2 linked regions of the Homo sapiens genome follow. The protein of the gene in region 1 purifies or fractionates together with the protein of each later gene. This does not show direct contact. Each region holds a gene or a part of one and is shown in the gene's direction. Other genes may lie near its edges.

Region 1 (3,500 bases):
AACCCAAGGTCTCTGAAAATGAGTTTTAGTTACTCTATTATCTAAGTATCTTTCTTACTGATATGTAACTTACCTGGCTGAACAATTACATTTTAGAGCTCCAAATAAATTTTCAGCCTATTATGTCATTGTCCAATTACAAGCCTCATTGTAATAGCCATGTTAAAAACAATAAAGCCGGTGAAATTGATTTCAGTGTATTTCAAATTAACCTAATATATTCGAAATATTATGTATGTATAAAAATTATTGAGCTTTTTTCTTTTTTCCACTAAGTCTTTGAGAGCTAGTGTGTATGTGTGGATTTGTACTAGCCACTGGTTGAGAGCTCTGTAGCCACACATGGCAAGTGGGTACCATATTGCTTAGCCCAGGCCTAGTAGAAGATTAAGACTCAGTCAGAGGAAGTAAGGCAGATCCGTGCTTGGAATCAGTTCCTCTTGAAGAAGTGCACAGCCAAGCAACACACAAAGCAGAAATATTTTGAGCTCTGTATTCAAAGCAGGAAGATCTGGGACCATGTAAGGGGGTTTGGTCTTCAGTTCTCCCTTTGATCCCTTCCCTGGGTGTGTGCTTTCTTACAGCCTGGAGAGTGGAAGGGAAGAGAGGGGGCTTCCTGGACTCCTTTCCTGTCTCTAGAAATGACCCCTGCAGCTGTCCTGAAGCTCTCAGGTTAAGCTGATTGTGTCCAGAGCAGACAGGAGGCGGCCCACTGCCCCACTGTACCCACCCAAGCACTCACCTAAGCTGGCCATGGAAATGTGAATGAAAAGCCTGACCCAGGCCCTCTTGCCCTGCTAACCCAGCAAGGAGGCTCTGACCAGCCAGCCAGCAAGTGACTTTTTCTGTGACATCTAAGTGGAATTCAGTGAGGAATCAGCATTATTATTCAATCACTGAAACAGCATATCCCATTGTGATACTGAGAAATGCTTTCCTCTTGAGACCTTTGGGAGGACAGCCATTTAAACAAGAATTCCCTGCATTCACTTTTGAATTACCTGTTAGCTGTAGAACTCAGCCAGGATCAAGTCTTGATGCCACCAATGATGAGTTTAGTGTACTTAATCTTTTGCCTCTTTGACTTTTTTTTTTTCTTTTTTAAGATGAATGATTTCGGAATCAAGAATATGGACCAGGTAGCCCCTGTGGCTAACAGTTACAGAGGGACACTCAAGGTGAGTGGGCAAGTCTTAATTTTTTTTTTTAATTGGAAAACTCGATCTCTAGGAGGAAAGAAAAAAAAGGCCTGGGTCCCAGAAAACTGGTTGTAGCCCTAGCTTCTTAATTTATTGGCCATGTGACTATAGACTATTTGCTTACTTGCTCTGGTCCTCAGTTTTCTGGTCTGCAGAATGGGTATCTTGATGTGTGTTGTTCTTCTCCTCCACGATATGAAACCAAAGGCCTTTATAGCTTGTTTTCTGAGGCTCCTTCCAGGTGAAAATCCTATAACTCCCAATAAAACAGCTGGAGAGGCTGTCTCTACTGCCTTTTCTGTCTACCCAGGAGTTTCCTTGGTTGATGGGAAGCTGTTTAAGAACTGAAATGAGAGAGAAGAGGCAGACAGACCCAACCGCTACAGCTCCTATCAGAAAGGGCAGCGCCCGTGGAATTGTAGGTAGCCTGTTACTGGCTCAGAGAACAAGCAGGCCTACTTATGTTAAACCAAAAACCAGATGAAAAATGAAAGCGCCCTCTCTGCTGCATAAACATTTTATGTAGCTTCTATCATCATTCCTTTTGGGAACATTCTTTAGTAGCACAAACTGGTAATCTCCCACTTGTCTTCTCCAAATATGACAGCAAGATTTGATTGTTTTCAGTATTATGTAGTAAACATGTTTCAGAAGCATGATTTTAAAATTGGCCTCCTCAAAGTTTAGCGTCTTGCATAATGATGATGTACGTCTCTGGCATATTACATTTTCCTTTGTATATCATTATTGAGGTTATTTGTCTGATATGACCCAAAGAGGCAAAACTCAGCACAGTCCTTTCTGCAGTATTCTAAAGGTCATCAAACTTCAGCCTAGTGAGTCTGCTTGTTTGATTTGGCCGGACATTTTAAGCATGGCAGAAGTGGTACAAGAAATCATGGTATTAAGTTGAAACCACACCCCTTAGAAAAATCCTTCTATTAATTCAAATAATTTGACGATGCTTATGCGGTTTCTGAAAAGAAGCAGTCGTTGCTGAAATTGATGTGTTGAAATAGGAAGCACAGATTTGTATTGTCTTTTGGCTTCCTGGCTTTAAAAAAAAAAAAAAAGAATTTACGGTTAGGAAAGGCATTTCTTAGTCACCTGGGCAATGCTTGTGGGAACTTTAAAAGTTTATTGGAGGTTTCACCAAAATTAGCTCTGCTCTAAAGTAGTTTGTAAATCCAGATGAGTAATTTGCACTTGCCTGATTGATCGGTTTTCCTCGTAGATCTCAGGCAGTTGGTCATCATTGACTTGGATTTTTTTGGGCTGGGCTCCAGCCTCTGCCTGCCCTCTTTTGTAATGCGTCATTCATTGTTCTGCATTTCTAAAAAGAAAGCGGGTAACCGATTTTATTTGTAAATGTGTTACACATTTTCTTATTGATGACTCAACAGATGGGTCATTGTATTACACATAACATGGGATTTCCAGCTTATGTTGGAAAAATATAGTCTTTCTTCACGTGTTCCTCAACAATTTAGGCGATGATGAATCCAGATATTATCGGTTACTTTCAAATGAGTCTTACATTAAAAGGTATTTCTTTCATAAATGTTATGTAAGATGCTCAGAAATCGAGTTAGTGTAAGGTTTTATCTTTCTGTGTGTCTCTTCTTTTCTGCAGATAGTTTAGTTTAACTTTAAACCTATTTCCTTTGGAAATCTTTCCCCTTAGTAGGTGATTTGGGTTTTTTTTGTTTTGTTTTATTTGTTTTTTCGTTTTTGGTTTTAAGCAACAGGGTCCTTCTCTGTTGCCCAGGCGGGAGTACAGTGGCTTGATCGTAGTTCACCGCAGACTTGAACTCCTGGGCTCAAGTGATCCTCTGGCCTCAACCTCATAAAGCACTGGGGTTACAGGCATAAGCCACCCCGCCTGGCCTGGGGGCGGGGAGGGGGTTCATTTTTAAGACACTTTACTTGTTATAAAATGAAACGTTAAGGAATTTTGTCATGTATTACTATTTTCCAAACCATTGGAATTGATGTGGAAAAGCATCTCTAGTTTCAGTTAAATTGTTTCATGGCAAACATTTCAAAATAAATGCTTCCAAAGATAAAGTAGTGTATTTCATTGTTTGATTTTTCAGTGTTTATCGGGTCATTTGCCTTTTAACTGCATTGTGCTCAGACGGCCTTGTCAAGGGTCATTTTTCTTACACACACAGCCTAGTTGAATTTTTCTCAATGTAACAGGAGGGTCAGGTGTTTGGTAAAGGGGTCTCTGAGGCTCCTCTCGACACCATTGTAAGATTCTGTTATTTTCAGATTTGTGTATTTAATATATTAACTTAA
Region 2 (3,500 bases), on another chromosome or scaffold:
AATGGCTATATTTAGGTCGAACAGAATATACTTAGAGTAGAAATCAGTACTAGAAACAAAGACATTTTATAATGGTAAAAGAATCAATAGTGAAAAGATACATCAATTATCAACACACCTCAAAACAAACTTTTTGTAGATATATGAAAAGAAAATCTGTGATATTTAAGGGAAAAACAGATATTTTGACTGAAGTTGTTGAAAAATACTCCACTTTTGATATTTCATAGAAAAACTGGACAGAAAATTGGCAGAGTTTTAGAAGACTTGAATAACATTGTCAATCTGACATAACAGACATCCAAAGACCACTTCAGCCAACAGTAGAAGCATGCACATTCTTCTCAAGCAAGTGTTAGTAACAGTCTCCAGGGGACACCATATTTAAGACTAAAAATAAGTCAATAAATTTAAAATGCTTGAAGACATACAAAACAGTTTTCTGTCAATAAATTTAAAATGATTGAAGACATACAAAACAGTTTTCTGACCAAAATGGAATTAAATTAAAAATCAACAATAGTTACTTTGAGACATCTGCAAGTATTTGGAAATTACATGACACATTACTAAATAACCATTAGTCAAAGAAGAAATAACAAAGGAAATGTAAAAGGATTTTAAACTGAATGAAAATGGAAACACATCATATCACAATTTGTGGTATCAGCCAAAGCAGTGTTGATAGAGAATTGTGTATCCTTAAGTGTCTGTCTTTAAAAAGAATAACAAAGCTAACTGAAGACAAGCAGAAGGAAGGAAATAATAAAGGTTAGAGTAGAAATTAGTGATAGAGACAGACAGGAATAGAGACTGCCTGTGATGGTGGATGCCAAATGAGTGATCTTATCGGAGTGCAGAAATACTCTAAAACTGATTTATGGTAATAGTTGAACTGCTGGTTAAATTTAGTAAAGATCGTTGAATTGCATACAATATTTTTAGTGTGTGTATTTTATTATATGCAAAATATATCTAAATAATGGTTTTTTAAAACAAATATGGGAAATAAGATTATATAGCATTATGTTTATCCAGATGTCCCATAATGTTTATATTAACATTTTTTTCATGACATCATTAAAACAAAGATTGATTTTTAAGTTTCCAGTTATTTTGACCCCTTAATACTCTCTTTCTAGAGCCAATCTTATATTTGAAAAGGATTCCTTTTCCTTTGTTTTCTGGCTGTTAGAGATTAGACATCATATGTGAAACTTTTAATGAAAAAACCAAAAACCAGTTAAAATTAACTTTGCTTTCCATTTCTGCATTTACTACATTTATCTAATTTTGTTTTGTTTTAGATCACTGTGTCCACTACTATGATCTTCGTAACACTAAACAGCCAATCATGGTATTCAAAGGACACCGTAAAGCAGTCTCTTATGCAAAGTTTGTGAGTGGTGAGGAAATTGTCTCTGCGTGAGTATTACTCTCCTCAGAGGTTGAGCTTAATACAGAGCTCTGTACTTACCTACCAGCTTGTAATGTCACTGAGGGTGTATGTAAACTATAATATTGGAGTATATGTACTTTTTCTTAAATAGTAGATTTTTTTTTTAATCTTGTCCAATTAAAGTAGTGTGGTTTCTGGTCTGTATTGTGCACTTTTATATGTGAATTGTGGGTAAAATCCTGAAGATACTAGTTTTTTATATACCCTCCCCCCTTATCTCATCCTCCTATGTTTAATTGCATTTGAACTTCAGATTAGATTTTAGCTATTGCTTCTAAAGAAGAGATAAACAACATAGTTGATGCAATAGAATGAGAAGTATTTTATTTATTAAAGTCAACTCATGTGTTACTGTGTATTTTATCTACTTGCAGTATAGTAGTAGAATTATTTTTGGTTTTAAATATTACTTGGTTGGCTTTTACACTGACATGGTCATTTATCTGTGATTTCATGGTGACTTTAAATATGTTGAAAAGAAAACTTTTTTTTTTTGGCACAGAGTCTCGCTCTGTCACCCAGGCTGGAGTGCAGTGGTGTGATCTCCGCTCACTGCAGCATCTGCCCCCCAGGTTCAAGTGATTCTCCTGCCTCAGCCTCCCAAGTAGCTGGGACTACAGGCACGTGCTACCACGCCCGACTAATTTTTGTATTTTTAGTAGAGACGGTGTTTTGCTATGTTGGCCAGGCTGGTCTCGAACTCCAGACCTCAGGTGGTCCACCTGCCTCGGCCTACCAAATTGCTTGGAATACAAGCGTGAGCCACCACGCCTGGCCGACAGATGAACGTGCTAACTCAGTCTGGCTCCAGAGCCTGCATTCTTAACCAGCAAACTGCATTGCCTCTAATTAGTAGTGATGAGTTTCGTGCCAAGAAATTTTAAGTAAGTTCTTACTCTTTGTACTTTTCCTCAGCTCAACAGACAGTCAGCTAAAACTGTGGAATGTAGGGAAACCATACTGCCTACGTTCCTTCAAGGGTCATATCAATGAAAAAAACTTTGTAGGCCTGGCTTCCAATGGAGATTATATAGCTTGTGGTAAGTGAAACCATCGTTTCCAGGAACTTTTTAACAGGTGTTTGTTATTGAAATTGAACTCAGTGGAAATAGAATAAATACTAAGTCAAGAAATGGTCTGTGCACTCAGAAGATAGTATAATAGACATGATGCCCCAGCACTACTGATTTTCCTTGTGTTGTACTAGAAGAGCATTAGTCCTTCCCTTTTTTATTGTGTAGAAACCCTGAACACCTCAAATACCTGAACACCTGATTTTTAACTGTTTTATAGTTGTTCTCCATTATAACATAATTCTTTAGATATTGTGTAGAAGACAGAAAAGGTTAAGTTCTGTTAGTAATATTTCCAATTTTGGAGACATTATGTGTCTTCTTAAGCTTGATATTCATTTTCCCCTATCTGCTGTTCTCTTCATGAAGTAATCTGTTTGCATAGCATTGATCTGTTATTCTATGGCTTTTATTGTTGATAATTTATACAAATTTAAATAAGAAATAGAAAAATCAAATTTGATATTATTCAAATGCTCTGATACATCTAATGCCTGAATAGATGAGCTTTGATCATACTTTTAAATGACTTGGCCTTTGTTCAGCAAAGTTGACTTTCTCCACATATGTATGAGACTGCCAAAGCAAATATCTGGAACAATTATTCTATCTTTAATAGATGGCTCAAAAATAAAAATACAGTTCATAGACCATTAATAGAATAATTCCTATACTGAGAAATGGAAATAAATTATGTAGGCTATGAAAATCTGCCTGTGTAAGTGTTGCCACTTTCTTTTACCTCTCTAAATGGAAATCTTCCTAAATGTAATTTAAGATTCTTATAATATATTTCTGGTTCTACTATAGACTTATTAGGCTGGTGCAAAAGTAATTAAAAGTAATGACAAAACCCACAATTACTTTTGTACCAACCTCTATAAATGATTTTATAGGGTAATTTTAGCCTTAGAATTATCAGTATTGTTGTATCATTTAACACTGATTGTTTCTTTAGATTAGTAAAG

The links. The genes of interacting proteins can lie anywhere in the genome.
Region 2: the proteins of ETS2 (region 1) and COP1 purify together in Homo sapiens (affinity purification with western blotting; 3 studies listed by BioGRID and IntAct, with this or other methods). This does not show direct contact.

Annotation. Positions count from the first base shown.
Region 1 is NC_000021.9:38,808,929-38,812,428, forward strand, and holds part of ETS2 (protein C-ets-2), read left to right. Parts: exon of another isoform or gene 1-868; intron 869-1,106; coding exon 1,107-1,178; intron 1,179-3,500. UniProt on the Homo sapiens protein: Transcription factor activating transcription. Binds specifically the DNA GGAA/T core motif (Ets-binding site or EBS) in gene promoters and stimulates transcription.
Region 2 is NC_000001.11:175,987,287-175,990,786, reverse strand, and holds part of COP1 (E3 ubiquitin-protein ligase COP1), read left to right. Parts: intron 1-1,307; coding exon 1,308-1,425; intron 1,426-2,374; coding exon 2,375-2,499; intron 2,500-3,500. UniProt on the Homo sapiens protein: E3 ubiquitin-protein ligase that mediates ubiquitination and subsequent proteasomal degradation of target proteins.